Homo sapiens: one gene and its partners. The protein of the gene in region 4 purifies or fractionates together with the protein of the main gene of each other region. This does not show direct contact. Each region holds a gene or a part of one and is shown on either strand. Other genes may lie near its edges.

The links. Proteins that work in one complex are often made in the same cells at the same time.
Region 1: the proteins of MTFR1L (region 4) and GZMH purify together in Homo sapiens (co-immunoprecipitation; one large-scale study listed by IntAct). This does not show direct contact.
Region 2: the proteins of MTFR1L (region 4) and CER1 purify together in Homo sapiens (co-immunoprecipitation; one large-scale study listed by IntAct). This does not show direct contact.
Region 3: the proteins of MTFR1L (region 4) and KLK2 purify together in Homo sapiens (co-immunoprecipitation; one large-scale study listed by IntAct). This does not show direct contact.

The regions. Positions count from the first base shown.
Region 1 is NC_000014.9:24,606,886-24,611,119, forward strand, and holds the start of GZMH (granzyme H isoform 1 preproprotein), read right to left. Parts: upstream 2,801-4,234; 5' UTR 2,729-2,800; coding exon 2,674-2,728; intron 1,528-2,673; coding exon 1,380-1,527; intron 863-1,379; coding exon 727-862; intron 522-726; coding exon 264-521; intron 1-263. UniProt on the Homo sapiens protein: Cytotoxic chymotrypsin-like serine protease with preference for bulky and aromatic residues at the P1 position and acidic residues at the P3' and P4' sites. Probably necessary for target cell lysis in cell-mediated immune responses.
Region 2 is NC_000009.12:14,719,934-14,723,900, forward strand, and holds the start of CER1 (cerberus precursor), read right to left. Parts: upstream 2,801-3,967; 5' UTR 2,740-2,800; coding exon 2,233-2,739; intron 454-2,232; coding exon 157-453; 3' UTR 1-156. UniProt on the Homo sapiens protein: Cytokine that may play a role in anterior neural induction and somite formation during embryogenesis in part through a BMP-inhibitory mechanism. Can regulate Nodal signaling during gastrulation as well as the formation and patterning of the primitive streak.
Region 3 is NC_000019.10:50,876,439-50,878,752, forward strand, and holds part of KLK2 (kallikrein-2 isoform 1 preproprotein), read left to right. Parts: intron 1-33; coding exon 34-320; intron 321-433; coding exon 434-570; coding exon of another isoform or gene 571-607; intron 608-1,965; coding exon 1,966-2,121; 3' UTR 2,122-2,314. UniProt on the Homo sapiens protein: Glandular kallikreins cleave Met-Lys and Arg-Ser bonds in kininogen to release Lys-bradykinin.
Region 4 is NC_000001.11:25,826,454-25,829,953, reverse strand, and holds part of MTFR1L (mitochondrial fission regulator 1-like), read right to left. Parts: intron 3,340-3,500; coding exon 3,128-3,339; intron 446-3,127; coding exon 124-445; intron 1-123. UniProt on the Homo sapiens protein: Mitochondrial protein required for adaptation of miochondrial dynamics to metabolic changes. Regulates mitochondrial morphology at steady state and mediates AMPK-dependent stress-induced mitochondrial fragmentation via the control of OPA1 levels.

The sequences.
Region 1 (4,234 bases), on a different chromosome or scaffold from region 4:
GTGCTTTCTGGCTCTCCCCAGACCAAGCCTTTCTCTGCAATTCTCACGGACACTTTGGTGATAAGTGACTGTCGGATGACAGATCCTTCCCCTCCAGCCACCCCAGTCCACCCAAGGAGTGGACTAAAGACTAGATTCCAGGGGGACACAGGCTGCCCAAGCTCTGGGCTGAGAGCATAAAGATCTGGCCACTGTCATACCCCAGAACTCCCTCAAGTTCCTCTCTCCCTGTGGTCTTTCTGGGTAGAGGCTGGAAACCCAACCTTGAAACCGGTCTGTGTCTTCTTTGGATCCCCCACACAAATCTCAGTGGCTCTGCTGTAATTGCCATGGAAGAGACGTTCACACTGGCAGTCCTTCTGCACTGTCAGCAACACTTCCTGCAGTGTGGTTGCTAAAGTGCTCATTGAGACATAACCCCAGCCAGCCACACTGCACAGCTGCCCTGGCTTCACCTGGGCCTTGCTGCTAGGTAGCCTGAGAGGCCGCACAGCTGTGGTCCACTTGGCCTTTCTCTCCAGCTGGTGGGGAAGAAGCAAGAAAGTCCAGGTCAGGCAATGGCCTTCTGGGCCCCGACACAGTGATGGGGCTGCACAATCTTCCCTCTCCTCTAAGGCACAGGAACTGACCAAGAGGTCAGGATGGAAAGGAGGAAAGGGCCGGCATCCCAGTGGGAGTGGAACCAACTGGACCAAGAAGAGCAAGAGTGGCAGGAGTGTGCCTCACCTGCAGTAGCATGATGTCGTTGGAGAAGTTCTTAGGATTATAGGCTGGATGGGGGATGGGTCTTTTCACAGGGATAAACTGCTGGGTCCGCTCCTGTTCCTTGATATTGTGGGCCCCCAAGGTGACATTTATGGAGCTGCACAGAGAGCAGAGTGAGGATGGGGGTGGAGTCACAGGGGATAGAGCCCAGGAGCAGTGAAGAGCAGATGACAGCTGTGGCAGGGTAGGGCTGCAGCTGAGGGGAAGTTGAAGGGACAGGAGGGCTCCAGGGCTGAGTGACTGTGCCCTCTACTTCACAAAGACATGAAGAGTAGGGCTTCTGGGGGCTCTCTCTTGCCTTCAGGAAATATCATGAAATTGCTCGAGTTTGCATTTTGATCCTTAATGCATGGATTCAACCTTTACTACTGCCTTATTGGGCCAGTGTGTGAAACCATGCCACTTGCTCTGACCTCTGACCCTCTGACCCTCTGACCCTGTCCTATTTCTCAGCCTTTCATCATCTTAGTCCTATTCCCAGGTGGCTGCTCCGATGAGCTTTCATGGGCTTGTGTTACCAGGAACTCTGGAAGCTCCCCTGGGCTGCAGTCCCCAGGAGAAAACAAGGGTCCCTGTAGGGGGAACTCAGGAGGTGAGCTGGTGCTGCTCCTTACCTTCCCTGGCAGTGAGCAGCTGTCAGCACAAAGTCCTTTCTCACTAGGATGCCGCCACACCTCTTCCGACTCTTCTCTTGCAGAAACTGAACAAAGGCCATGTAGGGGCGGGAGTGGGGCTTGGCCTCATGGCCCCCGATGATCTCCTCTGAAAGGAAAGACTGGAAGATAAAGTAGCTGGGGATGGCTGCAGTCAGGAGAGAAGGCTTAGGACGACAGTGATTGAGGGTGAAGTGTTTTGTGTGCTGCAGACAGTGAGGGAGGGGTCCTCCTGAGCTCTGCAGGCAGTACTCCTTGCAGGCAGAGCAAGCTTTTCTGAACTTTAAGTCTCAGAACCTTCTCTCAGAAAGAATGGACAGTGCTTGACTTCTGCATCCTACTGCAGAAACACACATGGAGGAAGAAAGATCTATTTTCACAGTGGTAGAGCCCCAGAGGATCCTGGACAGGACTTCCCAGGCTCCTCCTTTTTAGTGAGTCTCTCTGATTCCTCTGAGCCTCTGCTGTCCTCCTGATTGGTGCCATTTTCTAATGATCTACCCATGAGCTTCTGGAGTTGGATTTTCTAAAATTCTCATGTGCCAGGGCTGAACACATTCTAGGTTCTCAGTAAGTGTTGTTTGGTGCATAAATGAATAGCCTCCAATTAGCCTTTGGCTGAGGTTTAGTGGGGGTAGTGCTGGTGGGATTCAGGACCTCAGGGATGTTAGAGGGGGTTATCACCAGGTCAGTGGAGTAGCTGAGGGCCTGCAAAGGCAGAAGGAAGTGGAGAAATCAACTAAAAATGAATCGCAAAGCCCAGGTGGAGCCAAGGTAATGGGAGAGCTATGGACACAGTCATCTTGCCATCTCTGAGATCAGTTGCACCATGGGCTTCCCTCCTGGCAGGGGTGACTGGGTGGGGGCACTGAATAAGTGGTTCTTAAGCTGAGTCCAGTAACAACTCCTATGACTGCAACTTGGTGTCTGAGCTCCTCTTTCCTGGGTTGGAGTGTAGAGTAATAATTACTTATCTTTTTTAGCTTCACATTCCCTACCAAATGCCTTTCTAAGAACAATCCACACTCCAGGTCATAAAGGAGAGGTCTAGGGAGAGGCTAACACCCATTAAACCTTTTAGGGAACACCCTTCATTTTTCGATCTTTGCTGAGTGTCTATCTAGCCTCAGATTTATAAGTCTGGGTGTGGAATGGGAGGTGGGCTCAGATTGAGGAAAATTCCTGACCAGTGCTCATGGGTACAGGGTATCTTATAAGATGGGTTCAGGCCTCTGGAATAGGGATAGTCACTTACCTGTCCCAGCCCCAGGGGTCAGAAGAAAGGCCAACAGGAGGAGGAATGGCTGCATTTTCTCAGGAAGGCTGCCCAGGTCAGAGCTGTTGGTGTTGACTCCTTCCAGAAACAAATGCTGGAGGGAGATGAAGGAGGGATGGGTACAGTAAACTCAGAGACCTCCTAGACTTGTCCCCTTCTGGTTTTGATGGGTGTCATTATAGAAGGTGGTTTATTAAAATTATCTGGTTTGGTTTAAGTTGACATGGCACTGTCACATTTACACCCCTGCTGCTGAGTAACAAGGTGAAAGCAAGAATAAAGAACAAGGAGGTGGAGCTGTTGAAGCTGTGGCTGCAGCTAGCAGAAAGGCTGGTACTGCAGAAGCTCCTCAGTGACTGAGAACCAAGAATGTCTCCTTTTCTCAGTTCTTGGCTCTTTTTCTACTCAGATAAAATCATGAATAATTATTTAGCAAGCCAGATCCAGGGATATGAGAGACATGGCTCTTGCCCTTGAAGAATTGATGGTTAGCAAGAGTAGACTGAAAATCTGGGGTTAGAGCACAAGATGGTAAGGGCCGTGGTGGGGAAATCTGCCTGTTGGTGTGAGACGGAGGCTGGACTTGCCTTAGCAGTATGCAGAGTTGCACACACCCAACAAATACTGCAAATGGCAACCCATTCCTATCTTACCACTATCTCAGATTCATATTTTTGGGATATTTAGAATCCCCTCTTTAAATATAAATATTCTGTGACAAAGATAACTTTTTTTATTCCACAGTTCTGCACAAAAGTTCTGGACTTGATATTTATTGAACCAAAATGAGTCATCATTGGGTCCACTGAAGTGTAGTGGACTGATTGCTTTATGCTTTGGTTATTTAGCCCTCCTTAAGCTGAGGTGGGGACTGTTCCACTCCATCTATGGTGCTTATGAATGAGGAGGGGATTTCCCTTGAGAAATGCTAGTTGTTGTTGCCAGGTGATGGAAAAATGGATGCTGATCATCCTGATAATAATTGTTCACTAAGGCCGGGCGCGGTGGCTCATGCCTGTAATCCTAGCACTTTGGGAGGCCAAGACGGGTGGATCACGAGGTCAGGAGATCGAGACCATCCTGGTTAACATGGTGAAACCCCATCTCTACTAAAAATACAAAAAATTAGCCGGGCGTGGTGGCGGGCTCCTGTAGTTCCAGCTACTTGGGAGGCGGAGGCAGGAGAATGGCGTCAACCCAGGTGGAGCTTGCAGTGAGCTGAGATCGCGCCACTGCACTCCAGCCTGGGTGACAGAGCGAGACTCCATCTCAAAAACAAACAAACAAACAAACAAAAAACTGTCCACTAAGTATTCTCTCAGTTTCCAGAGAGCCATGTCTCTGATGTCCCTTGGCTCACAGTCATAGGCTGTCCATAAACAAAAATGTGTATATATACATATGTTTGTATATTTATGTATATGAATATATATAAATATATATGTATAGTTAAGTAGGAACATGTAAATGATAAAATTAAACTTACCAAAAATTCTACCACCGGAGATCATTATTAATGCTTAAGCATGTTTCCTTCTAC
Region 2 (3,967 bases), on a different chromosome or scaffold from region 4:
GACTAATATCATTTCCTCTATCGTTCTAATTTAAAACTACGTTTCAAGTCACCTTTCCCTGAAAATGTTATGTACCCACTTAACATTTTCAGACTGAATAATCAGCATCTTTGCTGTTGTGGTTTTGCTTTTCAAAGGTAATAGTGGGATAGCTCTTCAAGCTGAAACTCCTGGGATAAAGGAATCCTGGGAGCCAGCATGTAGGATGTGTCCATCTTCATGCTCCGTCTTCACCTTGCACTGGCACTCCTCCACCAGCATCACCACCTTGATCACGGAGGAAAGTTCAGTGCAGTTCAGTGGCAAGTGCATCGTGGTGAACTTGGCAGGCAAACAGTGAGAGCAGGAGGTATGGGAGTGCTGCGCGGCTCCAGGAAAATGAACAGACCCGCATTTCCCAAAGCAAAGGTTGTTCTGAACAACTACTTTTTCACAGCCTTCGTGGGTTATAGTCTAAAAAGCAAACACATTTCCATTACGTTATTTTGAATTATTTCTTTAACACACATAATGCAGAAGCTATGGACTGTAAATCTGAGGATAATTTAAAAATTTCAAAGCTTTCCAATTTTGGATACAATTTGCAATATGCAAGTGATGGTATCTATAAGGGCACAGAACCACCTCAATTAAATTTTCTTTATTGAGTAAATTATTAAACAGCCTTTAGGGAATCCCTAAGTTAACATAAAAAATATTTTACTCTACATTATTCGTGCAAAACCTTAAGCAATTTTGTCTAATTGGATGTGAGCGATTGAAAAATTCTAATGGTAATTATCTTACATAAGTAATGTGCCTTACTTTTTTATTCCTCACAGGGCTTTGTGCATAGTAGGCTCCCAATACATATTTGTTACATTGATCGTAGAATAGATCAGAACATTCTAGGTTTAATTCTATCCTATTCTGCAAGACCTGTAGTACATTCAAGTCTATGAAGTTGTATGCAAGCAGAGTTACAATGCATATGCCTGCAAATCATTGTATATTACATCACCTTTACCTCTCATAACTCCAAGCACCTAGCTTTATATGCCTTTCAAAATATGTAAGAGTCAAACATCTTAGTTTTAATTTAATTAGCAATAGAATTCAAAAGAAGAATTTCAAAAGAAATTTGATTGCCTGATTCTTAGGGGTAATTTTCTAATTGCACATGGCCAACAGAGTAGTCATTATTATTTGATAATTGACTTGCCATTGCTACATATCCTTGCCTTTTCAGGCAGAATACTTAACTGCCTTGAACAGTCAATTGCCCTATTCTATTGCTTGCTTAATTGGGTAGCATTACTCGACTATAAAATTTTACTCTACCCTGCATGTTTTTGGTTCAATATCTTCATGTTTAAGGACCTAATGCAAGTTCTCAATTTTAATTTAACATTTGGAATGTAGATATTGCCAGAGGAAGTAGACAGTAGGATGTCCCTTTGTCTTAATAGCATGGAATTGATCATAATAACTACAAATCAGCCAACACAACATGAATCAGGAGAAAGGTACTTCTAAGGGGAGGAGATATGATCTCACATCAAGATTGATTTTTTAAAAAGCTCATATGAGAAAATAAGTGAAAGAAAATCACTTTTTTGCTATCATAATACTAGAAATGATATGACAACTTTTGCCTGAGAACCTCAACGTACTTTGAGGTTGTGGGATAGCTTTAGCAAGCTATTAAAGAAGTCCCTCATAAACCTATAAAGTAATTAAGTATGGACTATGGGGATTAAGACCATCGTAAATGGATATGAGAGTATTTGGGAAGGAGTCCAATGCACCCCACTTTATCAACAAATGGAGTTGACCTGCTCATCCACATATTAATAGAGTGCAGAAAGATAGCTACAGAGGAGTTCTGGTGATTACTCTAAATTCTCAGTTTCCTAACTGAGGGTACAGTCTGACTTATATCTCTGAGTAGATCACCTCCAATGCAAAAATAAATAAATAAAACAGAGCTCTGTGTCTTCAGTGTGAATGAATGATTACTGATATTGACAGTATCATCATATCATTCTTGCAGCATTTCCACAATGCCAAGAAAAAATGGAAAGGCCAGAAGGAAACTTAATCTTTGCCAAATCCTATGATGAATGCCCAAGGACCAAATCTGTAGTTAAGCTAGAGTCAGGCTCCTGACAGCCTTTTCCCCTACTCTCCATCCATCCCAGCTGTCCACTACCACCTGCAAACTCTTACCTGCTCTCCCCCCAGAACACATACCTGGCTGAAGGGCACTGTCCTGCAGGTCTCCCAATGTACTTCATGGCTTTTGATGGGCAAGATGACCCCCTGAGAAGCCGGAGTTTTTCTGAACATGAAGTGGTGCCAGAATTTCTTGGCTTCTTCCCGAAGAGGAGATTTCTCCATTTTCATTCCATCTATCGGCTGGATGAGGGACTGGGTCCCAGGTGGGAAGGGCTCACTATCTGAGTCCCTGGATGGATGCATTTCTCTCTCAGGCTTCTTCCAGAACCTGCCAAATCTGGACAGCATCTTCTCTCTCTGCCTCTGGCCTTCCCCTGCAGGGCTGGTGGCTACAAGGTGTGGCACTGCGACAAACAGATCTGGCTTCTCCTCAGCTTCCTCATGGTTGCCTGTGGGAAGCTCTCTTTGATTCCTTGGCAGGAGTACGGGGGAAAGAGAACTCTGATTCTGGCGGCCATCCTGGTGCCGTGTGGTCTTTCCTAGAGGCAGGAGTACCAGCAGCTGAAATAAGAGGAGATGCATGCTGTCAGGGGCCCAAGCTTCTTTTGTAAATGATGAGGCCCAAAGGAGAGGCTCATTCTCTGCAGGACTGGGAAAAAGGAAATCGTATATATAGATACCTGCCTGGCGGGATGGGAAGGCAGGTGGTCAGTAGCCAGGCAGAATAAACACATTTATTGTTTGCTTGAATTATGTAGTGCTAATGGCCTCCTGCCGTCACTTTGGTTTTGTGTATTTTAAAAGGCCCCAGTGAAAGCCTGGGACCCAGGGGGTAATTAGCTAAGAGTTTAGCTATGTCTGGGGCTTAAAGAGCAGTATTAGCAAAGACAACACATTCTTTGCCTAAATTTCCCATGGCTGTTTTCAGAAGAAGGACTAGAGTCAGCTCACATTTGCTGTGCATCTGCCTTGTGCTGGAATAGAATAGACAAGACATGTTGCTGTAAGAGAAGTTTTTGGATAAAAATTAAAGGCATACATTTAGAAAAAGCCCAGGCCTTTAGGAAGGCTATTCACACACACACACACACACACACACACACACACACACACACACACACGAAGAAGTATATCAAAGTTGTAAGGAGAAGAAAGGAAGAGCTAGAAGGATGTTAATTTTTTTGAGCAAGGGACATATTGTTTCTTACTTACATGCAAATTGGGGTTATTGATTTTTGCACAGTAACTGAGTAAAGGGAATATGTTTTCCTTTCCACACGTAGAAACTCACAATTCCCAAGTTAATCCTCTCACATTAAGAATCAATTAATGGGTGCTAAATTTCACAACTGGTCAGTCATCAGATAAACTCTTCCAATTGTTCACATGTTCCTCAACAGGATACCACGTAATAGACTGACAGCTCATCAGTCTTCAATGAGGATAGGGAAATGTCTCCCTCCAGCCATCCTATTGATTTTTTTTTCCCTTTGAACAAAGAGCCAGACATGAGAACGTGGATTCTAAGAACCAGGTTTGATAACTTTGTGTGTGACGCTGGCTAGTCAGTTTCTTACCTTATTGAATCCACATCATCTCCCCTTGTTTTACACTAATTGATGGCCAGGCTAAATAAAGATTGACACAAATAAGAGTCTTCGGGGATCAAAGGAAAAATTGAAAAATAACTATCATTCAAAACTATCATGAATCAGCCTAGGATACGAAAAAGAAACACGTCCAGAAAACTGAAACCCCAGAATAGAGTCCGATCAGCCTACCACATGATTCAAACAGTATTTCCACTGGG
Region 3 (2,314 bases), on a different chromosome or scaffold from region 4:
CTCTCCTCATGCATCCACCCCCTTCCTCCCCAGGAATAGCCAGGTCTGGCTGGGTCGGCACAACCTGTTTGAGCCTGAAGACACAGGCCAGAGGGTCCCTGTCAGCCACAGCTTCCCACACCCGCTCTACAATATGAGCCTTCTGAAGCATCAAAGCCTTAGACCAGATGAAGACTCCAGCCATGACCTCATGCTGCTCCGCCTGTCAGAGCCTGCCAAGATCACAGATGTTGTGAAGGTCCTGGGCCTGCCCACCCAGGAGCCAGCACTGGGGACCACCTGCTACGCCTCAGGCTGGGGCAGCATCGAACCAGAGGAGTGTACGCCTGGGCCAGATGGTGTAGCTGGGAGCCCAGATGCCTGGGTCTGAGGGAAGTGGGGCCAAAGAACCAGGTGGGGTCCGGCCACAGCCCAGTTTTTCTCTGACCCATAGTCTTGCGCCCCAGGAGTCTTCAGTGTGTGAGCCTCCATCTCCTGTCCAATGACATGTGTGCTAGAGCTTACTCTGAGAAGGTGACAGAGTTCATGTTGTGTGCTGGGCTCTGGACAGGTGGTAAAGACACTTGTGGGGTGAGTCATCCCTACTCCCAACATCTGGAGGGGAAAGGTGAGTGAAGACCCTAATTCTGGGCTGCAATCTGAAAGCTAACCAGACATCTGCCTCCCCTGCTCCCCAGCTATAGCCACGCCCCCTCCCCATGCCTCATCTGCCGCCCTCCTTCCCCCTTCCCTGACTCCCTCAACACAAGAGGTGATTCTCACAGCATAATTCACCCATTCCTGTGTTGAGCACATGCTTACTGGGCACCTGCTACGTGACCAGCATTGCCGTAGACCCTGGGAAGCAGCAGTGAACAGGTAGAGAGCAGCCTCTCCCTCCTGCAGCCCCCATGCTGGTGAGGGGCACTGGCAGGAACAGTGGACCCAACATGGAAATGCTGGAGGGTGTCAGGAAGTGATCGGGCTCTGGGGCAGGGAGGAGGGGTGGGGAGTGTCACTGGGAGGGGACATCCTGCAGAAGGTAGGAGTGAGCAAACACCCGCTGCAGGGGAGGGGAGAGCCCTGCGGCACCTGGGGGAGCAGAGGGAGCAGCACCTGCCCAGGCCTGGGAGGAGGGGCCGGGAGGGCGTGAGGAGGAGCGAGGGGGCTGCATGGCTGGAGTGAGGGATCAGGGGCAGGGCGCGAGATGGCCTCACACAGGGAAGAGAGGGCCCCTCCTGCAGGGCCTCACCTGGGCCACAGGAGGACACTGCTTTTCCTCTGAGGAGTCAGGAGCTGTGGATGGTGCTGGACAGAAGAAGGACAGGGCCTGGCTCAGGTGTCCAGAGGCTGTCGCTGGCTTCCCTTTGGGATCAGACTGCAGGGAGGGAGGGCGGCAGGGTTGTGGGGGGAGTGACGATGAGGATGACCTGGGGGTGGCTCCAGGCCTTGCCCCTGCCTGGGCCCTCACCCAGCCTCCCTCACAGTCTCCTGGCCCTCAGTCTCTCCCCTCCACTCCATCCTCCATCTGGCCTCAGTGGGTCATTCTGATCACTGAACTGACCATACCCAGCCCTGCCCACGGCCCTCCATGGCTCCCCAATGCCCTGGAGAGGGGACATCTAGTCAGAGAGTAGTCCTGAAGAGGTGGCCTCTGCGATGTGCCTGTGGGGGCAGCATCCTGCAGATGGTCCCGGCCCTCATCCTGCTGACCTGTCTGCAGGGACTGTCCTCCTGGACCTTGCCCCTTGTGCAGGAGCTGGACCCTGAAGTCCCCTCCCCATAGGCCAAGACTGGAGCCTTGTTCCCTCTGTTGGACTCCCTGCCCATATTCTTGTGGGAGTGGGTTCTGGAGACATTTCTGTCTGTTCCTGAGAGCTGGGAATTGCTCTCAGTCATCTGCCTGCGCGGTTCTGAGAGATGGAGTTGCCTAGGCAGTTATTGGGGCCAATCTTTCTCACTGTGTCTCTCCTCCTTTACCCTTAGGGTGATTCTGGGGGTCCACTTGTCTGTAATGGTGTGCTTCAAGGTATCACATCATGGGGCCCTGAGCCATGTGCCCTGCCTGAAAAGCCTGCTGTGTACACCAAGGTGGTGCATTACCGGAAGTGGATCAAGGACACCATCGCAGCCAACCCCTGAGTGCCCCTGTCCCACCCCTACCTCTAGTAAATTTAAGTCCACCTCACGTTCTGGCATCACTTGGCCTTTCTGGATGCTGGACACCTGAAGCTTGGAACTCACCTGGCCGAAGCTCGAGCCTCCTGAGTCCTACTGACCTGTGCTTTCTGGTGTGGAGTCCAGGGCTGCTAGGAAAAGGAATGGGCAGACACAG
Region 4 (3,500 bases):
GCTTTATGAATGACATAACATATGGTACTACTAAGAACTTACTATGTAAGTATGTTGCATTACATAATTGGCCATGGGCAACTCTGAGTAAATAGATACCAGAGCTCCTCATCAGATACTTACAGATCTTGACTCTGTTTCATTCGGTGAAAGTCCTTCAGGATACCCATCATGTCTGCAAAGCTGCTGGCCTTGGACAAAGAGACGCAGTCATCCTCTTCAGACGAACTGCAGGCAGCTTTGTGTTCTGGTTTGCAACATTCAGGGCTGGCAGAACAAAGCAGGGGGACTGATGGAAGCTCAGGGACCTCCACCTCTGTCTCCTCGGTGATGTCACTAATGACAAAGGAAGTTGTAGAGTGGAATGAGGATCCAAAACAAGGTAAGGGAGAAGAGACATTTGAACTTCCTGGAGATAAGAAATCTGGCGTTAATGAAGCCGAAGCTGAAAGAGAAAACAATAGGCATGGGTGGACATTGGGGCTAGAACACAGTAGCAATATCTTCTCCCCACAGCCCTGCCTACTGAACATTCATTTCCTGGGCTGACACCATGACAATCTGGGAGAGCCAGGATGGTATCTGTAGCCAGTGGAGGGTCATTCCACTATGCTTCTCACTCGGGGGCTCAGAAAGCTGTAGAAGCACTGGGCTTTTCCAGTGTTCCAGGAAGGCAGGAAAACCCAGCCCCATAATGGCCTTGGCATTTAAAAGCTCCCATTCCACAATAGGCTGTGGAGTGACAGCCCTGTCATAGGCCAAAGCAGCAGAGATAAGAGCTAAGGCCTGAATTTGTCCTTTTCTCTAACTAGACTAGTGCTTTTGACTATGCTCCTTTGAAATCTTGCTATCTGTGAACTAGAAGACATGTTCTGAGCAAAACCAGAATGGTAACAGACCTCCCAACCTCCCCAAATTTCAGTGGAGAGAATTTCCTCAGTTTTTACATTTCTAAAAATACTTTAAAAACACTAAATACACTAAAAACTATGTTTCTAAAAAAGATGTTACTTCTGCTTGTCTCTTGGATGACAAAAAAGTAGCCAAGAAATAACAAAGTTTCAGTACAATTCTTCATAAAACTTCCATGTGAAGAAATTAAATACATGAAGATTTCAAAGAACACCATGATTTTCATGTGTCCTACCAAATGATAAATTTCAGAGCTATGACTCTGAGTCAATGCAGAGTGAAAAAATGAGGATGGGAGGAATATGAAGATAAGCCCTGAGCATCTTGGGAGCGATCCACCTGTTGGCTGTCCATGCCTCTGGTTAAGGCAGGCTTCCCATCCATTTCCAGTGGTTCTGCCTTAACTGTAGACAGAAAGCTGGAGGGGTGGGTTACAGGGCTTGTTTGCATAATAGACCACTGTTTTTTTTTTTTCTTTTTTTGAGACGGAGTCTCACTCTGTCGCCCATGCTGGAGTGCAGTGGTGCAACTTCAGCTCATTGCAACCTCCACCTCTGCCTCCACCTCCACCTTCCAGGTTCAAGGCACATGCTGCGATGCCCAGCTAATTTTTGTATTTTTTATAGAGACAGGGTTTCACCATGTTGGCCAGGCTGGTCTCGAACTCCTGACCTCAGGTGATCCACCCACCTCAGCCTTCCAAAGTGTTGGGATTACAGGCGTAAGCCACAGTGCCCGACCACTGTATTTTAAGGCCAAGATCTCCAACTTTATGAAATTCTCCTTCCACCAAAAAAGTCCACCAATTTGAGATAAGAAAACATAACATAATGTCATGAAACTCCCCACTTTGAAGGGTGGGGCATGGGGACAATGTCACTAGCAGTATAAGAACTGAAGTGGTAAAGCCACTTGTGATTCCTGGTAGAAACAACAAGGCAAGGGAAGATAGGTGCTTAAAAAGGGTAAGTCTCAGTGGTGGTGGGGGGAATGTTTACTTCTTGTATTGAAAAGGAAAGCAGGGCGCGGTGGCTCATGGTTGTAATCCTAGCATTTTGGGAGGCTGAGGCAAGTGGATTGCTTGAGCTCAGGAGTTTGAGACCAGCCTGGGCAATGGCGAAACCCTATCTCTACTAAAAATACAAAAAATTAGCTGGGCATGGTGGCATGCGCCTATAATCCCAGCTACTCGGGAGGCAGAGGCACGAGAACTGCTTGAACCCAGGAGGTGGAGGTTGCAGTGAGCCAAGATCGTGCCACCGCACTCCAACCTGGGTGACAGAATGAGACTCTTGTTTCAACCGCGGGCACAGTGGCTCATGCCTATAATCTTAGCACTTTGGAAGGCCGAGCTGGGTGGATTGCTTGAGGCCAGGAGTTTGAGACCAGCCTGATTAATGTGGCAAAACCCCGTCTCTACTAAAAATAAAAAAATTAGCCAGGTGTGGTGGTGCACACCCGTAATTCCAGCTACTCAGGAGGCTGAGGCACGAGAATCGCTTGAGCCTGGGAGGCAGAGGTTGCAGTGAGCCAAGATTGCGCCACTGCACTCCAGCCTGGGCAACAGAGCAAGAACCAGGACCCTGTCTCCAAAAAAAGGAAAACTGGCTGGGCTCGGTGGCTCACACCTATAATCCCAGCACTTTGAGAGGCTGAGGTGGGTGGGTCATCTGAGGTCAGGAATACAAGACCAGCCTGGCCAACATGGTGGAACTCTGTCTCTACTAAAAATATAAAAATTAGCCAGGCCTGGTGGCACACCCCTGTAGTCCCAGCTACTCAGGAGGCTGAGGCAGGAGAATCGCTTGCACCTGGGAGGCAGAGTGCAGTGAACTAAGATCGTGCCACTGCACTTCCAGCCTGGGCGACAGAGCAAGACTCACTCAGAGGAGAAAAAAAAAAAGCTACTGTGGGCTTATGTAAGATGTGATCTTAAAGACACTTAGAAGAGGGTATCAGTTTGGGGGCTAAGGGAGGGACTCTGCCTGGGGTCACAGGTTAATATTTTGTTCTTAACCAAACCATTCAGCCCAAAATGGCTGGTAGAAACCATCTAAGAGGCACTACTGGCTAGCCAGGCTTCAGGACAACCCCAGGGCCCGGAACCTAAGTACCTGCAAACCAAGGATTACCACTTTCTTTACCCCTATCCTGCCCAAGAGCCAGGGGAAAGGAACAGCCTGTTACGTTCTGGCCCTGGCACAGGGGCTCCTACCTGCATCAGCTGCCACTATCTTTGCAATCTGGCTGCGCAAGTGGCTCAGCTCGTCCTGCAGCTCAGTAGTGCGGCTTAGGGCTGGCAGAGCTGGCTTCTTCAGGGCCAGAAGCCTCTCCTCGGACCCACGCAGGTTGGGAACAGAGGCATTGCGCTGCATGACAATCAGAGGGCTGGGTTTCCAGGTGTGCCTCAGGGGGCGCGTATCACTCCTGGACCAGGGAAAACCAAGTAGATCAGTTAGAGACAGCAGGCCACTGTGCTCCTAAGGTTCCTTCCCCCACTTCTGTGAGAGTAGTATAGTAAGGTTCTGCTCCTCTCTGAGCCCACAGTTCTCATTCCTCTCTCCTTGCTGCCTGCCACCTCTTCTGGG